3 separate regions of the Homo sapiens genome follow, and all the other regions are linked to region 1. The links come from fine-mapping of genetic effects on gene expression. A gene starts in region 1. Each other region holds a variant in brackets. All regions are shown on one strand. Distances are from middle to middle.

Region 1 (8,184 bases):
TTTAGTAGAGACAGGGTTTCATCATGTTGGCCAGGCTGGTCTCGAACTCCTGACCTTATGATCCGCCCACCTCAGCCTACCAAAGTGCTGGGATTACAGGCGTGAGCCACTGCCCCCAGCCTGTTTTTAAGTGACAGAAAAAATTACCTCCTTTTCCACAAAGACCTCAGAAGTCTCAGAAGTTAAGTGGCAGAGGTGAGAGTCCAACCCAGGCTGGAAAAGGGGGATAGTAATACATAAGTCAAAAAGTTATGATGAGATATTAAAAGGACAATAAATAGCAAAGACATTTGCAAACCATAAAATGCATAAGGAAGTAATTGTTTTTCTCCCAAGGAGGCAACAATTAATCTTACAGAGGTCTGGAGCTCTAAGATGCCAACATACCAGAAACTCCTCAGACCTGGGCCCTCTCCAAATATCTAAGTCTCAAATTAAAGGAGAGCAGTGGTCAGGCATGGTGGCGCCCATAATCCTAGCACTTTGGAAGGCGGAGGCCAGTGGATTGCTTGAGCTCAGGAGTTTGAGACCAGCCTGGACAGCATAGTGAGACCAGCCTTGCCAACATAGCAAAATCCTGTCTCTACTAAAAACACAAAAAATTAGCTAGGCATGGTGGCACATGCCTGTGATCGCAGCTACTCAGGAGGTTGAGGTGGGAGAATCGCTTGAGCCCAGGAGGCACAGATTGCAGTGAATCGAGATCGCGCCACTGCACTCCAGCCTGGATGACAGAGCGAGACCCCGTCTCAAAAAAAACAAGATAAATAAATGAAATAAAGGAGAGTAGCATTCTTACCCTTTGAGAGCCCATTCTTCTAACTGTGCTGGGTGGCATTCCTGGAGAGGATTCTCTAAGCAGTGTCCAGGTAACCCACTCTTCCCTGAAGTCCCCAGCCACATTATCAAGCGTCATCAGTTCCTAAAGCAAGAGACCTCAATGTGCATCAGTAGCTCCCTAGATATTCTCACCATTGTCTGAAAGCCAAAAAATGGCCACCAGTGTACACAAACAACCCCCCACACCTGACCAGAATGGTCCTGAGGTAAATTCTGTCAACCACAGAGGGGTGCTTTTCTAAGTCTGTTTTTACATACGTCTTCTCCTGGCCAACTTTCCCATTACTAAGAGAGGCCTAGGCCTCCCAAACACATCGACAGAACCCAGTCTTTTAGACACATTGACTTTTTGAGGAACAAATTGTCCACGATGAACAAGGTAAACAAAGGAGAGAGTTGGCAGGTGTAATTTGATTTCTGGAAAGCTTTTGATTCTCCCCAACTTCATTTTCCTCAGCAAGCAAGGAAATTGTGGCCTTAACTATACTCATATTAGTTATGGGAGCAGCTAACTTCTTGGCTTGCAGATTTGGTGTCAACCTCAAGGGACAGATTATACAGAACCCCAAAGGGAACTGTGTTGGATACCATTCTATTTCAAGATCTTAATGGAGTCAGAAATAAGACTGAAAAAGACATTTTTTTTTTAAAAAAAAGAAGACATGGATAGGTTGTAAAAATAAGTGAAAGTGGGAATAAGCACAAAACACAACTCTTAGGGGCTGAAACCAATCATTAATATATTAATAAATCGACAGCAATATCATGAAAAACATTACTTTTTGGAGGATAGTCAAGAGTGAATTACTGGATGGATCAGTCATTTATTCAACAATTAATATGTTGCCAGGCATAGGAGTCACATAGAAATTAAGATAATGTTTTTTCCCTTAAAAAGTTTCCAATAAACCAGCCTCAGCAACATATTGAGACCTCTTTCTCTACAAAGAACTTTTAAAAATCAGCCAGGCATGGTGGCATGCACTTGTGGTCCCAGCTACTCAGGAGGCTGAAGTGGGAGGATCACTTCAGCCCAGGAGTTCCAGGCTGCAGTGAGCTATGATGGCGCCACTGCACCCCAGCCTAGCAACAGAGTGAGCCCCTGTCTCTCCCTTAAAAAAAAAAAAAATGCAGCCAGCATGACCACCCACTACAAAGAATATTGCATTTCAAGGGAGGAAGGACCAGACTGTGGTGAAGAAGTTTTACTCTTTCACATCTTTTGTCCCACTACAAATCACCTATTTACTACTGGAACACACACACACACACACACACACACACACACACACACACACTTTTGGGGGAAATATTTTTGTATTTACAGACATTATTATTGGTCATTTATAAAGTATTGAGTTTTTAAGGATCTAAAAACCATCTCTCTGGTTTAAAACTTTAACAAACAACAATAATGTAATTAGAAAGTAAAAATTGTAATAAGAGTTTTCAGTATTGGCCAGGTGCTGTGGCTCATGACTGTAATCCCAGCACTTTGGGAAGACGAGACGGGCGGATCACCTGGGGTCAGGAGTTCGAGATCAGCCTGGCCAACATGGTGAAACCCTGTCTCTACTAAGAATACAAAATTAGCCGGGTGTGGTGGCACACGCCTGTAATCCCAACTACTTGGGAGGCTGAGGCAGGAGAATCGCCTGAACCCGGGAGGTGGAGACTGCAGTGAAAGGAGATAGCGCCATTGCATTCCAGCCTGGGCAACAAGAGCGAAATTCCGTCTAAAAAAAAAAAAGAGTTTTGAGTATAATTTTTATTTCTACATTCATTACAAAACACAGCTGCAGGGCCCACTTGCTGGAGACAGCGCCACTGAGGAGGGGAGACGTCTTAGCCACGGTTATAGAAACCCTGTTTCCCAGCCCGTCCCTTTCCCCATGCACAGGTGACCTCAAAGGCCCCACAGCGCTGAGGGGCTGTGACTAAGTGCCACTGTGAGAAGCTCCAGTGCGTTCACCGGGTTTATTAATAGGAACATGACTGCACGCGTGGGGCCGAACCCCGTTCTTCTTCTCGGTGCTCGCGCCCTAACCGGGGTGCGGCGGTCAGAGGGTCACAGATCAGCTGAAACCCTGGGACCACCATCGAGAAGCAAGAAAACTGATTAAGAGAATGACTTATCCCGCCGACGGTATAGAGACCACAGCTACCTCTCCCACAGCCCAGCAAGACCCGGGGGCTCCCAAAGGCCAGCGCGGGAACCCCGCTGAGAAAACGTCTGGGTGGCGGGCAAGCCCCCTCCACGCCCCTCAGCAGCGCGCCGCTGCCGCCGCGGTCTCCCTCCTTGAATCACTCACCGCCCCAGGGCCCAGCCGGGGATGGAGCAGGAAGTGAGTCCTCCACCGCCGAGCCGCACCCGGCCCGCAACCCCGAGGCTGTGCCTCCCAGAACCCGACCGGGATTCGTGACAGGGCTGTGGGGACACAGGTGGGACTCCGGCTTCGACAGCCAGCGGCCGGAAAGTACCGCCCCCATCCTCTTGCTATTGGCTTTTCAGTTTCCATGGCTAGAATTTTTCTCTGTCCATAGGCTGATAGAGCTGTCAATTATCGCCTAGCCTTCTGGGAAACGTAGTCCCGAGCAAGACCTCAAAGGACTCGGAGCCGTGGATGTCCAGTTCCAAGCGTTGGAAAGTGCTAAACCCAATTCCCCAGCTACCGGTCCCCCGGAACCGCCTGTTTGGAGCCGAGGGATCTAAATGCTGTATCCTCACTGTGGCATCTGCAGATGTGAATCTCCTGGCCTCACCCACCTACCGCGGAGCAGCCTGGTGCCCACCATGAGGTCTCCCGCGCTCTGGCACTTCGCCCCTCCCCAGCGCAGAGCAGCTCAGCCCTCGGGCCTTTGCGGCCTCTCTTCTGCCCAGTCTTCCACCTCATCCCCGGCGGCCGGAGCCTGCAGGGTGTTTGCGGAGGCCAGGTCCCAGACCAACTCAAACTGGACATTGGAAAGGCCCAGCAGAAGCCCTTAGTAGAAAACAGACATTCCGCATCCTTCCCTTGGCATCAAACTCCCAGGCACATCCCCTTTCCGTCTGGTTGATAGCCAGAGGAGGCGGGCGAGGGCATCAAGTATTCTGGGAAATGTGATATCGGGCTTCAAACTGGGGAGGCTCCTGGGTCTCATGTGAGAGCCAGTGATCACTTTGGGTCGGCCCCTAGCTAAAAAACAACAAAGTCTTTCCTTAAAGTGAAGAAAATGTGCCTGTCTACTCCGTTTGTTGATTCAGTGCAATTTAGAAAAATAAAAGAACATTTTGTGATGTATTATAAAACGCTTAGAATTACCAGCCATAGAGTTTTTTTTTTTTTTTTTTTTTAGACGGAGTCTCGCTCTGTCGCCCAGGCTAGAGTGCAGTGGCACGATCTCGGCTCACTGCGAGTTCTGCCTCCCAGGTTCACACCATTCTCCTGCCTTAGCCTCCCGAGTAGCTGGGACTACAGGCGCCCGCCACCACACCCGGCTAATTTTTTGTATTTTTAGTAGAGACGGGGTTTCACCATGTTAGCCAGGATGATCTCCATCTCCTGACCTCGTGATCCGCCCGCCTCGGCTTCCTAAAGTGCTGGGATTACAGGCGTGAGCCACCGTGCCCGGCCCGAGTTAATGTTGAAGATCCCTTTGATGCTAATTCCACCATTCCTTCAACAAAAATAAGGTGCATTTTCCAGTGGATATTTATTGGGAACATTCTGTTCTCAAGATCGTTCTGGGGGCAGGGCGTGGTGGCTCACGCCTGTAATCCCAGCACTTTGGGAGGCCGAGGCGGGAGGATCACGAGGTCAGGAGATCGAGACCATCCTGGCTAACATGGTGAAACCCCGTCTCTACTAAATATAGAAAAAATTAGCCGGGCGTGGTGGCGGGCGCCTGTAGTCCCAGCTACTCGGGAGGCTGAGGCAGGAGAATGATGTGAACCCGGGAGGTGGAGCTTGCAGTGAGCCGAGATCGCGCCACTGGACTCCATCCTGAGCGACAGAGCAAGACTCCGTCTCAAAAAAGAAAAAAAGAAAGAAAAAAAAAAAAGATCGTTCTGGGAACTGTGATTACTCGGGAATCATACATAACCATTACCTTCATGAAGTTCACAGGCCAAAAGGGGAAATAAACCATAAAAGGTATCAAAATCCTAAGTAATTTTTTTTTCCATATAGCCAGTGGCATCTTAGTTATTTTGCTACACAATTATAGTCATCTGCAAGGTAACTACATTGCATTTTCGGAAACTCTGTCGACTATGAACAAATGTCTGGTTAGCAGAGGTAGTTAGACGTAGTTAGATTTAGTTAGACGAAATTGAGGAAAATGGAAATCTCAGAGGAGGTCAGTAACAAAGTAACACCCAGGAAACCTAGGGATTGCCAGTCCTCCTGTAACTGGAACAGAGTTCAGGACCTGGAGAACCGAAGGCATCTTCAGACCCCTCGGTAAGTCTTTCTAGCATTTTGCCATTAAGGAGATCATGAAGATTATTCTTCAATCTGGGACTGGAGTGGGGAGATGAATGAAGAGTCACAGAATCTGGCTGGTGGCTATCCCCTGCCGCTCTCTGCAGCTTCTGTTCCTTCTGCCTTACCTTGTTCTCTCGGCGGTTTGTTCACAATGATCAGGTGTGTGGGGAGTAGGGGAAAGGAAGCTTGGTCTCACGAGAAGAGCAGTCAGTACAGGAAACCAATCATGTACCCGCAATGGCCACGTGAAGAGAGGATCATTACCTGTTGAGGGGTTGGGTGCTAAAGGGCGTGGCCGAGAGGAGGCGTAGAAGAGCCAGGAAAAACTGTGAAAGGACTTCAAGGAGCATGAAAAGACAGAAAGACTTCAGCACTTGCTATAACTGAATTTATTTATTTATTTATTTATTTATTTATTTTGAGACAGAGTCTTGCCCTGTCGCCCAGGCTGGAGTGCAATGGCACCATCACAGCTCACTGCAACCTCTGCCTCCTGGCTTCAAGCGATTCTCCTGCCTCAGCCTCCCAAGTAGCTAGGATTACAGGCGTGCACCACCACGCCCGGCTAATTTTTTGTATCTTTAGTAGAGACGGGGGTGTCACCATGTTGGCCAGGCTGGTCTCGAACTCCTGACCTCAGGTGATCCACCCGCCTTGGCCTCCCATAGTGCTGGAACTACAGGCGTGAGCCATCGCACCCTGCCAGAACTGATTTTTTTAAAGAGAGAGTCTATCATTATCTATTGCTGTGTAACAAATTACCCCAAAATTTATTGGTTTAAAAAACCAAATATTTGGTTTTTGTGCTCCCAGCTGTTTGGAAAAGCCGCCGGTATTTCTCCACCTGGCTCTCCTCTACCTCCAGGCAGGCGCACCCGAGGTCCCCCTCCCACCCCACCTTCTGCCCTCCCGCACACTTGGACCAGTGCTGTTGACCCGGAAGCGGACATTTCTGCAGCTATTCTAAGCACACGTCGGCGGAGGGAGCGGGACGTGGCCAGCGGTCAGCGGCGAAGGAGGCAGGCCCTGCGCGGGGATCACGGAAGCCCTGTGATTCACCATGAAGTTCCAGTACAAGGAGGTCCATCCCTTTGAGTATCGGAAAAAGGAAGGAGAAAAGATCCGGAAGAAATATCCGGACAGGGTCCCCTTGATTGTAGAGAAGGCTCCAAAAGCAAGGGTGCCTGATCTGGACAGGAGGAAGTACCTAGTGCCCTCCGACCTTACCGATGGCCAGTTCTACCTTTTAATCCGGAAGAGAATCCACCTGAGACCTGAGGACGCCTTATTCTTCTTTGTCAACAACACTATCCCTCCCACTAGTGCTACCATGGGCCAACTATATGAGGACAGTCATGAGGAAGATGATTTTCTGTATGTGGCCTACAGTAATGAGAGTGTCTATGGGAAATGAGTGGTTGGAAGCCCAGCAGATGGAAGCACCTGGACTTAGGGGTAGGGGAGGGGTGTGTGTGTGACTTGGGGAAAGAGAGGGCGGCTCCCACCGTGAGGAGACAGAAGGTGAAGACATATAGAAACTTTACACCGCACACACCGTCAACGCATTTTCACATGCTCAACTGATATTTTTTGTTGCTTCCTTGGCCCAGGGAGAAAGCATGTCAGGACAGAGCTGTTGGATTGGCTTTGATAGAGGAATGGGGATGATGTAATTTTATGGCATTCCTGAGATTTAATTTTTGTGCAGTTTCATAGAAAGGTCGGTCAGGAGGTGGACAAGTTGGGGTCAGAGATGATGGCAGTCCAGCAGCAACTCCCTGTGCTCCCTTCTCTTTGGGCAGAGATTCTGTTTTTGACAGTTGCACAAGACAGGTAGGGAAAGGGGACTTGTGGTAGTGGGCCATACCTGGGGACGAAAAGAGACCCACTGTAATTGATGCATCGTGGCCCCCGATCTTCCGTATCCCACACTTCTTTTCTCCCATCCCAGTTGCAATCTCACTCACAAACATCACAGTACCACCCCAGGGGCGGCAGTAGACACCAACCCAGAAATTTAGACAGGGATCTCTTATCTTTGGAAAATAGGGGTTAGGCATGAGGGTGGTTATGATTAAGAAGATAATTTTGTTGTTAAATAGCATTAAACTGGAATTGACAGAGTGAGTTGAGCATCTCTGTCTAACCTGCTCTTTCTCTCTGGTGCTCCTCATCTCACCCCTACCTTGGAATTTAATAAGCTTCAGGCATTTCCAATTGCAGACTAAAACCACTTCTACCATCTCCTCTAGTATTTTCCATGTATCAGGACAGAGATGTCTTATGTAGGGAAGGGGCAGGTATGAAGTGAGGTAGATTATCTATACCTCTCACTCATTCAGGATTCTCGCTCCCATGCTGCTGTCCCTTCATTCTCACACTCACAGGAATGCTATGTGATGGCCAGCTGCTTCCCTTCTTGGTTATCCACTGCAGCTGCTAGTTAGAAAGGTTTGCAGGGATGACTTTTAGTAAATCATGGGGATTTTATTGATTTATTATCACTTATAGGATTTTGTGGGGTGGGAGTGGGGAGCAGGAATTGCACTCAGACATGACATTTCAATTCATCTCTGCAAATGAAAAGGGTTCTTCCTCTTGGGGGAAATCTGTGTGTCAGTTCTGTCAGCTGCAAGTTCTTGTGTAATGAAGTCAATGCTGTCAGGCCAAGTGAAGGGAAAAGAGAGATCAGACTGTTACTGTGTCTATGTAGAAAGGAAAGACATAAGAGACTCCATTTTGAAAAAGACCTGTACTTTAAACAATTGCTTTGCTGAGATGTTGTTAATTTGTAGCTTTGCCCCAGCCACTTTGACCCAACCACTGTGACCCAACTTGGAGCTCACAAAAACATGTGTTGTATAAAATCAAGGTTTAA
Region 2 (8,184 bases), 21 kb before region 1:
ACAACAATCCTATGAGGTAGGAACTACTAGAATTTTCAATTTAAGGATAAGGAAACTGAAATCAGAAAGGTTAACAATGTTCCAAAAATTACACAACTAGTTAGTGACATACTCAGTATTCAAACTGCATTGGACCCAAAGCCCACATATGTGAACGCTATTCTCCACTAATGCACATGAGGACCTAGAGGGCTGAGTTGAAAGATTTGTGAGGCCACATCCACCAAAGAATGTGATGGACATAGACCTGACAAAGCACTCTCAAGAAGCTTTCAGACATCAAGATAGAGATCTAGGAGCACAGATAAGAGAACAGTTGATGGGTCGGGTGCGGTGGCTCAGGCCTGTAATCCTAACACTTTGGGAGGCTGAGGCGGGCAGATCATGAGGTCAAGAGATGGAGACCATCCTCGTTAACACGGTGAAACCCGTCTCTATTAAAAATACACAAATTAGCTGCGCCAGGTAGCAGGTGCCTGTAGTCCCAGCTACTCGGGAGGCTGAGGCGGGAGAATGGCGTGAACCCAGGAGGCGGAGGTTGCAGTGAGCCGAGATCACGCCACTGCACTCCAGCCTGAACGACAGAGCGAGACTCCGTCTCAAAAAAAAAAAAAAAAAAAGACTTTGCAGGGAAGACCTATGAAAAGGGTGAGAAAGGGCACAAGTTGCAGTAACAGTGTAAACAAAGCCAGAAAAATTGCAAAGGTGTGTGCGTGTGTGATCATGCCCTGATTCTTGTATAGTTAATTTCACCCCAGGCTTCTCAAACAGCACAGCCACATGATGTTTCAAAAAGTCCAAGTGGAACCTCTTCGGAAAGATGCCCCACCATTGGCAGAGGCTGTGACCTTTTTCCTCAGGTACCAGGGGTTGCTACATGGGGAATGGGTGGACACTGGGCTGTAAATACTGCGTCTGGAATTTATTCCTTTTGGTGGATGCTTGGTCTCGCTGACTTCAAGAATGAAACCACGGACCTTCACGGTGAGCGTTACAGCTCTTAAAGATGGTGTGTCCGGAGTTTGTTCCTTCAGATGTTCAGATGTGTCCGGAGTTTCTTCCTTCCAGTGGGTTCGTGGTCTCACTGACTTCAGGAGTGAAGCCGCACACCTTCGCAGTGAGTGTTACAGCTCTTAAAGGTGGCTCATCTGGAGTTGTTTGTTCCTCCCGGTGGGTTTGTGGTCTTGCTGACTTCAGGAATGCAGCCGCAGACCCTCGCATTGAGTGTTACAGCTCATGAAGGTAGTGCGGACCCAGAGTGAGCAGCAGCAAGATTTACTGTGAAGAGCGAAAGAACAAAGCTTCCACAGCATGGAAGGGCACCCGAGTGGGTTGCCTGCTGCTGGCTTCGCTGGCCAGCTTTTATTGCCTTATTTGGCCCCACCCACATCCTGCTGATTAGTCCATTTTACAGAGTGCTGACTGGTGCGTTTACAGTCCTTTAGCTAGACACAGAGTGCTGATTGGTGCGTTTTTACAGTGTGCTGATTGGTGCATTTACAATACTTTAGCTAGACAAAGAGTGCTGATTGGTGCGTTTTTAATCCTCTAGCTAGACAGAAAAGTTTTCCAAGTCCCCACCCAACCTAGAAGCCCAGCTGGCTTCACCTCTCAATACCTTCTTTCTTTATCACTCCTCATTTTCTTTACGACTGATATTTGGGTGGTAGAAAGCTCACATCCTTTATGGAAAGTCACCTTCCTATAAGCTCCTCTGGAAGTAGAGTACAGAAAAATCTAACTAGGCCTCTCATGAGATTACAAGCAATGAGTGACATTTCTACTACAACTTATAATGCCAGTGCAGGGCAAGGTAGAAACTGCAAGACTTCAGTCACTATTCAGTTATGTAAAGACTAACACGTGGGCACAGTGGCTCACGCCTGTAATCCTAGCACTTTGGGAGGCCATGGCAGGAAGATTGCTTGAGCCCAGCAGTTGGATACCAGCCTGTGCAACATGGTGAGACACCATCTCTACAAAAAATAAAAAAAATTAGCTGGGCGTAGTGGTGCATGCCTGTGGCCCCAGCTACTGGGGAGGCTGAGGTGGGAAGATCACTTGAGCTGGGGAGGTCGAGGCTGCAGGGAGCTGTGATTGCACCACTGCGTTCCAGCCTGGGAGACAGAGCAAGAACTTGTCTCAAAAGAAAAAAAAAAAAAGAGCTAGACAAGGTGGCTCACTCCTGTAATCTCAGCACTTTGAGAGGCCGAGGCAGGTGGAACCCCTCAGGTCAGGAGGTCCAAACCAGTGTAGCCAACATGGTGAAATTCTGTCTCTACTAAAAATACAAAAATTAGCCAGGCATGGTGGCATGCATCTGTAGTCCCAGCTATTTGGGAAGCTGAGGCAGGAGAATTGCTTGAACCCGGGAGGCGGAGCTTGCAGCGAGCCAAGATCACACCACTGCACTCCAGCCTGGGCAACAGAGCAAGACTCTGTCTCAAAAAAATTTTAAAAAAATTAAAAAAAAAGACTAACACAGGAAAAAACGGGAGAGACATATAGCTATGGAGCAATGTTCCTCCCTAAGACTCCAGTCAGTTCATTGACACATGTCCAGTTTGAATTTTTTTTTTTTTTTAAAAGAAAGGCCAGGTTGTACCACCTTCCTTACAATACAGAAACAAGCTCTCTCAACCACAAGCATCAATGACATTATCCAGTTTCGTGGAATCACTGGCAATGCCCCCATGTATCAGAATGTCTTCTGTGGCTGAATTTACATGTGAAGGTTAATTAAACAAAGCTTTATTTCAGTATCATGGCTTGTTTGCATTTACTCATTCATGTACCAACTGGCATAAGTGATACCTCCTCCAGGGAGCCTTCCTTGACTCTCAAGATAGCCCTTCTCTGGCTGACATATACTTCTTGTATTGAAACTATGTGTCTGGGCCGGGCATGGTGGCTCACACCTGTAATCCCAGCACTTTGGGAGGCCGAGGCAGGCGGATCACCTGAGTTCAGGAGTTTGAGACCAGCCTGGCCAACATGGCAAAAGCCTGTCTCTACTAAAAATACAAAAATTAGGTGGGTGTGGTGGCGCATTACTGTAATCCCAGCTACTGGGGAGTCAGAGGCAGGAGAATCGCTTGAACCCAGGAGGTGGAGGTTGTGGTGAGCTGAGATCACCTCACTGCATTCCGGCCTGAAGGACAGAGTGAGACTCTGTCTCAAAAAAAAAAAAAAAAAGAAAAAAGAAAGAAAGAAACTGTGTGTCTGTATGTCTGTTTCCCACAACCACTCTGTGCTCCTCAAGAGAACTGTCATGTTTATACCTGTATCCCCAGCACCCTCAACTAGGCCTGGATATAAGAGGTAATGAGTGTTTACTGAATTAAATTGAATAAATTAGAGAGATACAATGTGGGGTTCGACGTGTGTCCATATATTCTGTTTGTAACATGCCTCTGACTCTGGAGAGGGAAGACAGGCTATGCTGGCACCTAGACTCAGGCTTAGGTGCTAACATTTAGATGCTTCAGGTTTCCTTCAGTTGAGCCCAAGTCACCTGGATAAGGAAATTTATGTATTTTTAGTACATAAGTGACAGATTCAGGGCAAACTCAGTAATAAAAGCAAGCTTCTGGCTTCAAGATCCCAAGAGATTTTCTCTTAAAGAGTTTGGGCTGGACGCAGTGGCTCAAGCCTGTAATCCCAGCACTTTGGGAGGCCGAGGCGGGCAGATCACGAGGTCAGGAGTTCAAAACCAGCCTGGCCAAAATGGTGAAACCCCACCTCTACTAAAAATACAAAAATTAGACCGGGTGTGGTGGCTCAGACCGGGCGCGGTGGCTCAGACC[G/A]GGCGCGGTGGCTCACGCCTGTAATCCCAGCACTTTGGGAGGCCGAGGAGGGCGGATCATCTGAGGTCAGGAGTTCGAGACCAGCCTGGCCAACATGGTGAAACCCCGTCTCTTCTAAAAATACAAAAATTAGCCGGGCATGGTGGCAGTTGCCTATAATCCCAGCTACTCGGGAGGCTGAGGCAGGAGAATTGCCTGAATACAGGAGGCGGAGGTTGCAGTGAGCCAAGATCATGCCACTGCATACCAGCCTGGGCAACAGAGCAAGACTCCATCTCAAAAAAAAAAAAAAAAGAATTTTATAGGCAACTAAAATGGGTGGGACCAACCTGCCATCCCAGCTACAGAGAGAAAAGCCAAACATTAGTGGACTGGGACCTTACTGTGGATGAAGAATCTAGTATCTGGGGCGGAAAGCAAGGTCCTCCCAGGAGAAGAGCAAGAAAGGAAGGTTGATGCTAGAGCCCGTGGAAGGGTCTTAAATTCTACATTAAACGAGATTCTACTTTCGTCTGTAGACAATAGGAAATGATTTAAGATTTTATAAGCAGGGGAGGAGTAGGATTTGATTCAACAAAGATTTATGAAATGTTTACTTTTGTACTAGTATGAACAAGGGCATAAAGTTGAGTTAAACATAGTCACTGCCCTTTAGACAAGTACACAAGTGACTGTAATGCAAGATGAAATAAGAAGTGAGTGAAACCCAAGATGTAGAAAGAAAGGATTATAGAAGTCCAAAGGAAATCCTATCTGCTTGATAGAGGAGATCTGGAAATACTTTATGGAGAGGGAGGTGTTTTAATGGGGCCTTGAAGAATAGGTACTTTATAAACAAAATTCCCTGAAGAGGCAACATGAACAACAATAAACTTGTAAAAGTTGTGTAACTGCTGGGCACGGTGGCACACGCCTGTAATCCCAGTACTTTGGGAGGCCCAGGTGGGAGGATCACCTGAGGTCGGGAGTTCGAGACCAGTCTGCCCAACATGGCGAAACCCCATCTCGACTAAATACAAAAAATTAGCCGGGTATGGTGGCACATGCCTGTAATCCTAGCTACTCGGGAGACTGAGGCAGGAGAATTGCTTGAACCCAGGAGGTGGAGGTTGCGGTGAGACAAGATCGTGCCACTGCATGCCAGCCTGGGAGACAGACTGAGACTCTGTCTAAAAAAAAAAAAAAAAAGTTGGGTAACTTCCCCACTAATCAGGGAGATACTTTTTAACTTAATTTAATTTATTTATTTGAAACAGGATCTGGCTCTGTCATCCAGGCTGGAGTGCAGTGGCATGATCATAGCTCACTGCAGCCTTGACCTCCAGTGCTCAGGTGATCCTCCCACCTCAGCCTCCTGAGTAGCTGGAACTACAGACATCAGCCACCACGCCAGATAATTTTTATTTTTTTTTTTAGAGATGGGGTCTCACTATGCTGTCCAGGCTGGTCTTGAACTCCTGAGCTCAAGAAATCCTCCTGCCTCAGCCTCCCAAAATGTTGGGATTACAGGTGTGACCTACTATGCCCAGCTAAGACGCATATTAACACCACAATGATATATCATTTCATGCTCAAAAACATTTTATAAATAAAAATTTTACATATATAGATATATATGTATATATACATATATTTGCTTTTTTCTATATATATACATATATACATATATGTATAATACATGTATATTTATATAATACATATGCTTCCAATTAACTACTATAAATTTGTATTAGTAAATCCTTTGATTTTCATTAGTTTGTATGAGTATCATTATTGCTTAAGCAATATATTTAGTTTTGCCTGTTTTTTACCTTTACTGTATTTTTTTTTTTCCCCGAGATGGAGTCTCACTCTGTCGCCCAGGCTGGAGTGAGTGGCACAATCTTGGCTCACGGCAACCTCCACCTCCCAGGTTCAGGGGATTTTTCTGCTTCAGCCTCCTGAATAGCTGGGACTACACGCATGAGCCACCACGCCTGGCTAATTTTTGTATTTTTAGTAGAGACATGGTTTCACCATGTTGGTCAAGCTGATCTCAAACTCCTGACCTCGTGATCTGCCCGCCTCGGCCTCCCAAAGTGCTGGGATTACAGGCGTGAGCCACCGCACCTTCCCTGATCTTTACTGTATTTTTGCTCTTACTAAATATATATGTATGTATATATAGAGAGACAGGAAATAAAGCAAGTATATATAAAGGCATAGGAGTGAGAAATGCCAGACTCTTTTCCTAAGCTGTATAGTGGGTACGTGGTTGCTCTTTACACTAATTTTTGTATATTTTAATATTGATTTTTTTAAAAAAAGAGTAGATAGTAGTTCAGCAGGAGGAATTGAAGCAAGAAGCTATTCTAGAGAGAAGAAATTGTACTGGAGAGAGCAGGCTGTGTTCAGGAAACAAAGTGTCATCATTCTGCTTGGCAGAATAAAATACATTTTTTCTTTGTCATAAGAGCAGCAACTTGCATTTGTGCACTTTATAAAATACTTTCATGTGCTCCCACCAGTTAATTATCAACTTGAAGAACAAGTATTCCATTTGATAGATGAGGAAACAGGCTCAGAAAGAATAAGCGATATATTTGTGAATATTTTTGGCAGAGAAAAAGCTTAAAAGGATATACAACAAACGGTAGTGGTTATCTCTGGGAAGTGGAATTTACTCTGTTTGCTTAATTGTATTTTCTGATATTTCTATAAATGAACCTGAAGTAAAAAATAATAAAGCAGAGAGGGGGAAGGAAGACAACAGGAAAACAATGACTTCCTCAAAATCAAATGTTCATGTTTTCAGATTCCCAATCCTGCTCTGAGTTACTCTAATGAAAACAACAGAAGAAATACAAGAAAGATTCTAACATAGAAAAAAATGTTCAACCTCACTGGTAAGCAAAGAAATGCAAATTAAGACAATATGTAAGAATCATGTCTATTAAATTAGCAAAACTTTTTTAAAGATGAGGGTGTGATGAGACTAGTAGCCATTTACTGTTCGGAACACTGTAAATTGATACAATCACTTTAAAAATGATTCCACAGCAGCCAGGCGTGGTGGCTCACACCTGTAATCCTAGCCCTTTGGGAGGCCGAAGTGGGCGGATCACTTGTGGTCAGGAGTTTGAAACCAGCTTGGCCATCATGGTGAAACCCCATCTCTACTAAAAATACAAAAAATTAGCTGGGCATGGTGGTGCGCACCTGTAATCCCAGCTACTCGAGAGGCTGAGGCAGAAGAATTGCTTGAACCTGGGAGGCGGAGGTTGCAGTGAGCCGAGATCGTGCCACTGCACTCCAGCTTGAGTGATAGAGCAAGACCTGTCTCAAAAAAAAAAAAAAAAAAAAAAAAAAGATTCTGCAGCAAGTAAGGGAGGTGTAAAATTGTTCTCACCCTGTGAAAATAATCTAAAATGTGGAAACTTTTTTTCTGGGAAACAACAAAATGTTCACATGAGCATCTTTAATGCAGCAGGGCATCCCCCATTCAGACACCAGGTCCAAGATTGGCTGTTTATAGAAAGATGGCCTATAATCTTCTGGACATTTATCTGCTCTAATTTATATACATAAAGGAGCAGAGGGTGTTTTGGGGTTGGTTGGTGGGGCGGGGGGTTTGCTGAAGGAAATATAAGAAAATGTGTGTTTGTGCGTGTGTGTGCATGTGTTTGAGTGGGAATGAAGGAACTGATCTAGTGTGTCTGTTCAGGGCCCAGGCACTCAGATTACTCTTTTTCCCCCTCAGTATAACTCAATGAGATTTGAGTGAAAAAGATCAATCTCTGGAGAAGTGTTCTGTTTTCTTATTTGCTTTGTTTTATTTTTCTTGTGAAATACATTGTAAATGAAAAGCATATAAGTAATGCATATTAACAATTTAAATAATTATTTTACAAAGAAAACCTGTGTACTCGGCAGCCAACTTAAGAAACAGAAACTTTGATGGCAGAGGTGGGCGGATTACTTAAGACCAGGAGTTCGAGACCAGCCTGGCCAACATGGTGAAACTCCATCTCTACTAAAATTACAAAAATTAGCTGGGTGTGGTGGTGCATGCTTGTAATCCCAGCTACTTGGGAGGCTGAGGCAGAAGAACCACTTGAACCCAGGAGGCTGAGCTTGCAGTGATCTGAGATCCTGCCACTGCACTCCTGCCTTGGCAACAGAATGAGACACTGTCTCAAAACAAAACAAAAAAAGAAATAGAAACTTTGCATCTTTCTCTCCCATTCCAATTAATTACTATACTGAAGTTTGTATTAGTAAATCCTTTGATTTTCATTAGTTTGTGTATCCTTATTGCTTAAGCAATATATTGTTTAGTTTTGCCTCTTTTTTACCTTTACTGTATTTTTACTCTTACTAAATATATATTTCTATGTCT
Region 3 (8,184 bases), 52 kb after region 1:
TAGGAAAATGACAAAAAGCATGCAAAGGTAATTTATGAAGAAACAAATTTTTTTTTAAAGTTTGACTTATGTTGTCAAGTAAGAAATGCAAATTAAAAGAAAAACCATTTTGACTCAGTTGACAATGACTTTTTTTTTTTTTTAACCCATAGGTGTTGTTTCGAGAGGCAGGCCTTGCTGTATGACTGAAACACACTCTTGTAGCTGGTGGAAGTAAAACTATTACACTCTTTCAAGAAAGCAATTGGGCCGGGCATGGTGGCTCACGCCTGTAATCCCAGCACTTTGGGAGGCCGAGGCGGGTGGATCACGAGGTCAGGAGATCGAGACCATCCTGGCTAACACAGTGAAACCCCGTCTCTACTAAAAATACAAAAAATTAGCCGGGCGTGGTGGCGGGCACCTGTAGTCCCAGCTACTCGGGAGGCTGAGGCAGGAGAATGGCATGAACCGGGGAGGCGGAGCTTGCAGTGAGCCGAAATCACACCACTACACACCAGCCTGGGCGACAGAGCAAGACTCTGTCTCCCCAAAAAAAAAAAAAAAAAAAAAAAAGGAAAGCAATCGAGCATTGTGTATCTAGAACCTGAAAAATATTTAAGGCTTTTGATCTAACAATCTGAATCCTAGGGAAGCTTTCCAAAGATAATCAGGTATGTGACCAAAGAATATTACATGCAACATTATTTATAATGTTGAAAAATTGATCATCTCTTATGTCCCAAGTAGAATGGTTTAATAATGTAAACTGATGTGATGTGATGTGATATGATGTGAGCTGAGGTGAGGCAGCTTTAAAATCATAGCTTGGAATATTATTTGATAAACTGGGAAAAGGTTTGTGATATATTAAGTGAAAAGGAGATTCCAAAACGAAATAACCTGATTTTAAAATTAGTAGTAGTAGTGTATTGAGAAAAGGGTTGGAAGGGAATCAATTCAAGGCTATCATTTCTGGATAGTCAGTCTTGGAACATGCCCTGCTCTTAGTAAGGCATGCACTTTTATTTGTTGCTGGAATAAGCAAATGAATAAATTGTGGGGTTATGGATAAATCTTCTTCTCCATAGGTTTTGGAATTTCCCAAATTTTATACAATGAGAATGTATTTTTATCATAAAAACTAACCATTATGAAAAACATGTAGTATGTTGACACTCACTGAACAAGATAGAAAAAACCCTAGTAATTTTGTTCAATGTCCTTCAGTTTTACCATTTTCCAAAAGTTTAGAATACTGAAACCAACACTGGCTCATTTCCTTTTCATGGAGGGGGCTGGATGGATCCTTTAAAGAAGCCAAATCTTTTGTCATCTCTAGGCTTCAGGTCCCTCCTCCGGAAACAAAAGGAACTTAAGGTCCTTTCTGGCCTTAAAAAAGGGAGCTATAGATTCATTCCTGCTCAGTGGTCCTGGTTGATAGAATTCTTCCTTCATCAACAGCCTCTGCTAAAGAGCACCCTCAAAATTAAAGTCATGGTAAAAACTCTTGCCAGTTTTGCAGACATTTTTGTTTTGCTGCATGACTTTTGGACGAGAACTAGACTTGTGTCATTTCCATGTGAACAGACACGTGTTTTCCAGAGGGCAGACTGTGGTTAGGGCTGTGTCCCTGCGACCTTGTCTCTGCATAACCCAACGGGTCTGCATGAGAATAGGACTTTTCATCTCATTTTCACTGGTTTCATAATTAACCAAAGCACTTCGTATGTGCTAGAGGTCATGGTGGGAACGCTCAGGGTAAGGCTGTGGATGGTGCAGCTCAACCCATTTCTTATTTCTGAAGAACATTTTGAAGCATGCAGCCTATGGCTGGAAGGCAACTGAGTTCTATTCATAGAAAGGCAGCTCGATTTCTTTCCATGATATCCTTTCTTGAAAAAGTAAAAAACAAGCTGCTATGTGTCATCTCCAAGTATGGCAAATTGGTGCAGGAATTGTAAAAGAGCAGATTTCTTTACTGAGACCCATATCTGTTCCCCAACATCCCCCCTCCAAAGTGCGCCACCTCCAGTGGGCCTCCCTGTCATGCCCGGCCTGTGGACAGCCAGCCCCACCATCCCTCCCACCCCCTGCCAAGAATGGGGGGTGCCGTGTGGCCTGACAGTCTCTACCAGTCCTGCTCTCCCTTGGCTGACAAGCAAACCCATTTCTGGATGACGCGGAATGTGTCCTCTGCTCTCTGTGTTGTCTTTGGAGCTCAGGGGAGGGGTAAGGCCAAGCCATTACTAGGGTACTGGGAGCGGTGAAAAGGCCACATCCTTTCCAAGGAACACTTTTCCTGGAAAGCCCCTGGAGCTTAGCTGGCTCTCATCCTGTGAAGCCTGCTCTGGCCACTAGGGGGCAGGGCCATGAACTCAGCCCGGAAGGAGCCTGAGGGGCAGCCGGCACTCTGGAGGGACAGACATGTCGAACAGGCCACCAGGTGCAGACAGGCGAGGGAGGCAGTGGGGCGGAAAGGAAGATGCCTGGGGTGCATGGAAGTCAGTGCCCGTGGGTGCTGGCATCCTGCCTTCCCGGCCACCGCTAGATCAGGCTTCTGAGCCTGTTGGCCGTCAGGGCCGGACTGTGCCCCGTAGGCGCCATGGCAGTCCCTGTGGACTCCCCCACGCGTCACCAGGCAGCATACAGGTAACAGGTCTGGAAGGTCCCCAACAGACCAGCTGGACATGCTCGGACACTCTGGGGCTCCTCGTTCAGTGGCACAAACTCCAGGACCCAGTGGGGGAAGCAGGAACACACCAGGCTAGCAGTATGGCTAAATCCATTTATTCCAAAATAAAAAGCAAAATAAACAGGAGTTGCATCGCCAGGAAGTCACGACCCCATCCCCGCCTCCTTCCTCTGTCCTATGCTATCAAATAAATTCCCCAGCTGCAAATAATTATTAGAACCTCCCCGCCATGTGCCAGCTCCAATCTCCACTAGGTACTATACAGGGGCGGCCCTACCCCCCAGAATATATAAAACGTTACACAGACACAATGTGTACATGGGGGAAGGGGGGCCACCCTCAGCAGCTCATGCCCTTGCCTGGTCTACAGTTAGCCCCACTGTCCCGCCTCAGCTGCCTCTCTGACTAAGAAGACGGGAGCCTGAGGGAAAAATTGCTTTGGTGAAAGTAAGGAGGCCATGAGGCCTCCTCCGAACAAACCAACTCCCATCAGCCTCTGCCTCTTAAATAACAATCATCATCATCCAGAAATTTAAGGACTCAGCCCTGGCCAGGGTGGCAAAGGGTCTGTTTGTCTCTCCCTATTAGACAGGGGTCTTGTCTTGCTACTCTAATGGTAAAGGGGTGACTGGGAAGGGGTGGCAGGGACATGGTGGGGGTGGAGCCTCTGGCCCCACTTCTCCAGGCTTTGCTGACAGGGGCCTGCTTTTGTTTTTATTTTTATCCCATGACTTTTTTTAATCACGTTTTTTCTGTAACTTTTTTTTTTTTTTTTTTTTTGAGATGGAGTCTTGCTCTGTTGCCCAGGCTGGAGTACAGTGGTGCCATCTGGGCTCACTGCAACCTCTGCCTTTCGGGTTCAAGCAATTCTCCTGCCTCAGCCTCCCGAATAGCTGGGATTACAGGC[G/A]CCCGCCACCACACCTGGCTAATTTTTTGTATTTTTAGTAGAGACAGGGTTTCACCATGTTGGCCAGGCTGGTCTTGAACTCCTGACCTCAGGTGATCTGCCCGCCTCAGCCTCCCAAAGTACTGGGATCCCAAAGTGGGTGGATCACCTGAGATAGGGAGTTTGAGACCAGCCTGACCAACATGGAGAAACCCATCTCTACTAAAAATACAAAATTAGCCAGGCGTGGTGGTGAATGCCTGTAATCCCAGCTACTTAGGAGGCTGAGGCAGGAGAATCTCTTGAACCTGGGAGGTGGAGGTTCCGGTGAGCTGAGATTGTGCCATTGCACTCCGGCCTGGGCAACAAGAACAAAACTCCGTCTCAAAAAAATAAAAATAAAAAAGTTTTGGAAATAAGTTGTGGGAAAAAAGTTATGGAAAAAGTTATGGAAAAATATTCCAAAAAAAGTTTTACGAAAAAAAGTTATGTGATAAATATTAAATAAATAAAAGCAGGCCACTTTCAGCAAAGCCTGGAGAAGTGTCTGATGGGGGAGACAGGTGAAGATGAGATGAAGATCGCGGTCATCCAAAAGCAGGGAACTAGGCCCAGGGCGGTAGCTCACACCTGTAAGCCCAGTGAGCCACTGACCATAACATTTTTTATCCCGTAACTTTTTTATCCCATAACGTAACTTTATCCCATAACTTTTTAATCTCATAACTTTTTAAATCTCATAACTTTTTTTAATCTCCTAACTTTTTAAAATCCCATAACTATTTTTTCAGTATGTGTTCTTTTGGTAAACACTTGCAGCCGGGCGCGGTGGCTCACGCCTGTAATCCCAGCACTTTGGGAGGCTGAGGTGGGCAGATCACGAGGTCAGGAGTTTGAGACCAGCCTGGCCAACATAGTGAAACCCCCATCTCTACTAAAAATACAAAAATTAGCTGGGCATGGTGGCGTGCACCTGTAGTCCCAGCTACTCGGGAGGCTGAGGCAGGAGAACTGCTTGAAACCAGGAGGTGGAGGTTGCAGTGAGCCGAGATCGTGCCACTGCACTCTGGCCTGGGCAACAGAGTGAAATTCCATCTCAAAATAAATAAATTAATTAATTAGTTAAATGCTTGCATAGTCATATTACAATTTTGTAAAAATAAAAACACTATTTCATGCCAAGCATGCCTGGCATTTGCACAATCTCAATACCTTTAATACTATAGTTTTCAAGACACACAAAATAAAAATTTAAGGCAAAAACAGCACTTTGCAACAATAATTTATTACATACAGTAGCATCACAGCAGTATTCAATAATGCCACTTTAGGCAAAAGTCTTTCAGTATTTCCATTATAGATTCTGTTTACAAGAATTCCTAAATTGGTAAGTCATTATAAGAAAACTTGGCAAATAAAGTTTTGGACTGGAATTGGCATTTCTTTCTTTACTTTTCCTTCCCCTAGTTTCTTTCTTTTAAGCTACAGTATTCATATTTTAAAATGTTTTAATTTATTTCAAAACATTAAAATAGCAGTTACATTTTTTAATAGTTATACTATTGTAAAATGACTAAGAAAGTTTTAGAGAAACTATATTCTGGATAAGGCTGATTTACATTTTCAAATTTTCTAGAAATCAGCTTTGGTTTTAACATTAGTTTTTCAGTTCTGGAAAACCTATTAGTATTAATCAAATACTTCAAAATGATTATCATATACTGCAACCTTTAAATAAACAAGTATTTTGATTCTTTACCTCCTACAGAAATTCAAATTTATTCGGTTGAACTCACATTTTAAAATTCTATGTTTCCATGAACTCTAACCTTCTAATGTTGCCTGCTAAGCAAATTGAAAGCTGTCTTATACTGAATGAGAAAGAGAACAAATATCTGGCTGAATGAGGTATTGCAAAAGACTGCATGCCCTTTGAAGAAAGACTTAAGTTATTATAATATGATTTCCATCCTTGTTAGCTTTTTCTTAAATATATGACAAAAATACCTACACAAAAAGTAGTATCTCAGTTAATATAGTAAATTTATTTCCAGACAGACATTCAGCTTAAGTATGCCGGTATGTGAGTTAATCCAGAGGTACCTGATGAACACATTATTGTCAGATTGATTACAGATGCTAAACGCTATCCGAAGGTCATTCCTAGTCATTTACATTTATCAATGTAAAAGTGAAGTGATTTGAACTATTAAAATACCTTTGAAATAATTTATCAATGTATCAGATAAACCCAGTTTCAGAATGATAAAGAAAAACTGTTAGACCAAATAATGTGGCTAATTGACAGTGGTACGATTTCTAGCCCGAGGGTTTAAAATGGACTTAAAGTAACTGTCTTTAAACTGAACTCAAAGAATGCAAAAGCAGCAAGTTCAGAAAATAAAAGGCAACAACAGGACCTTAAGTCCATTTTAAACCCTCGGGCTAGAAATCGTACCACTGTTAATTAGCCACATTATTTGGTCTAACAGTTTATCATTCTGAAACTAGGTTTATCTAATACATTAATAAATTCATACAATTTGGAAGAGTCAGTTGAAGTCACAAGGACCCAATATTTGCATTTTTTTCCGTGAATCCAGGCAAATCAGTTATTTTGTCTGAAAAATAATACTGCTTTCCTATTAATGTCATATTTATAAAAGTATCATGAGGATGCCAAATGGAGACGGTCTAGTAACTACAAATCCCCACACCAGGGAGCGCACATACATCTCTCCCTACATCCTAATAATGTGATGTATTTTGGAATACAGACATTAGAACTTCATGAGGTTTTAACTGTTGATTCTTTCCCAAGCATCATCAAGTTATGATTTAGGCAACATATGACTGAAATAATTCATTCATAATATATAGGCGCATTCACATAAATATTGCACAAAATATGCCTCTAACTGAAACTGAAAGGTACAAAAACATATTTCACTCTTCGTAAAGAACTTTCGGAGGAAGTAGGACTCTGTGATTGTACAGACACTTTTCCTGATAAGACTTTGACATTCACAAACAGTAGATTGCACTGCAGTTTGTAAACATTTTAAGTCGCATAAACTTCTCCTTGATTTTCAAATATAGAATAATACTGTCTACTAAAACTCCTTTTTCTTTCAACCAAGTACTCTCACATATATTCATTTATAATATTATTTTTAAAGTGTTCTCCATTCAAGGAAAAGAAGTAATTTCCTATGTCAAAGTAGCCAATGTGGTTGAAGAATAGGTATGAGCCAGAGAGGTCTAGATGGTAAAATTAATCTTCTAGCCTCAGAGAAGCTCCGTGAACAGAGAGGAATGCCAGGTGTCACATAGCTTTCCTTCACTCGAATTCATTCCTGACTAGAGCCTGTATGCCTGTTTCAGGGACATCTAAACTCTTAAAGGATTTCTTATGATCTTTACTAAATACATTAAGAAGAATGCCAACCAGTGCCCTTTTGTGTACTGGGACATGTAGTCACGTGATTAAAACAGGGACCATGAACTCTGACTTTAAAATGTGTTATAGATATAAATGCTCTAAGCTAGGAAAGGTTTTCCACATCCACAATCAACGATGGGAGCCTTTCATTCCTCAGAAATAAGCCCTTTTTAGGTCATCAAAAAAGAGTACAACTGCCACAGCTCATGATGCAATATCTTCATAAGCCCAGAACACATACAAATCCTAAGGGAACTACCATAGTACAGTGCTCATTCTTGGCACCAAAACAAATAAAACACACTCTATCCTGCACATACCTGCCAGAGCAGGCCACTTTCCTCTTCTGGGAGATTTAAAAAGCTCCCCAAAATGTTATTACTCCCATCCCCAATACACAGAAAAAGGGGGAAAGGCTGTTTCCAGTGCTCCGCCTTTAAGCAACTGTAAATGTCAGTACTCACAGTGGCATATTACAAAGTAATAGACCGCGCACTTCAGGGCAAACCACATATTGAGCTGATGAAGAGCTCACTGTGATTAGGATTCGATCAAACATAATAGCAGAACATAAGCAAATTTTATCTGAATTCCATAATAAATATACATGCTGCAATAACATTAAAAAAGCATGGCAGCCTATCCCAAACCAGGAAGAATAGTTTTGTGCAAATAGTGGGTCTTTGTGTGTTTGAACACCCACCACATAAGGGCAAACTTGATATGCATGCTAATGACCTACAATTATCAAATTAAAAAAGAAACATGCTAAAGGATGCCAGAGTGAACATGAGGAAAAGACCCACTCTCCTTTAACTTTTTACAAATAAAATTTAAACTATAAATTAGAAACACAAATAAACATGAGTGGCTCTAACATTCAAATGAAGTAAATGAATTGTGTAGGAGATTAACCCCTTAACTTTTTTTTTTTTTTAATTTCTTGACCAGCTCTTAGATGATGGTGGTGTTTATCTCCCTGTTCTCGGCAGCTCGAAAAGAAAGGCATGCAGAGATTGCTGCCCAAGCCTGGGTGCTCCTGGGGAGTCCTGCGTTACAGGAAGCAGCTGCATGATCTGCTGTGCAGTGGGGTTGTCGTGGGGAGAACCCTCCCTGGCCTCTCCTGGTGCGGGCTCCACGCTGTCAGTGAGGCTCACCTCACAAAGATCTTCGGAGAGAGGG

Which allele goes with the higher level. Positions count from the first base shown, and alleles are read on the strand shown. Sizes are in standard deviations (SD) of each study's normalised expression. Not every link is listed here.
In carriers of allele A in region 3, the expression in tibial artery of the gene that starts at base 3,280 in region 1 tends to be lower than with G alone (small effect, 0.32 SD a copy in GTEx).

The links. PIP is the estimated chance that this variant, and not a neighbour inherited with it, causes the effect.
Region 2: its variant is the best candidate, but not a certain one, in a credible set for the expression of ZNF774 in tibial nerve (GTEx, PIP 0.53).
Region 3: its variant is the best candidate, but not a certain one, in a credible set for the expression of ZNF774 in tibial artery (GTEx, PIP 0.72).

What each region holds. Positions count from the first base shown.
Region 1 is chr15:90,347,380-90,355,563 of GRCh38, reverse strand. ZNF774 (zinc finger protein 774) reads right to left here and starts at 3,280. Exons shown (of 4, transcript NM_001004309.3): 1 at 3,153-3,280; 2 at 800-922. The coding sequence starts at 903. It also overlaps the pseudogene GABARAPL3.
Region 2 is chr15:90,368,560-90,376,743 of GRCh38, reverse strand. No RefSeq gene overlaps it. Among named protein-coding and RNA genes, the nearest start is that of IQGAP1, 16 kb to the left of the region's middle. The variant G/A (reference allele first, on the strand shown) is at 3,807.
Region 3 is chr15:90,295,545-90,303,728 of GRCh38, reverse strand. It overlaps the pseudogene GOLGA2P8. Among named protein-coding and RNA genes, the nearest start is that of NGRN, 34 kb to the right of the region's middle. RefSeq lists enhancers at 103-152, 2,311-3,071 and a silencer at 3,416-3,608. The variant G/A (reference allele first, on the strand shown) is at 3,582.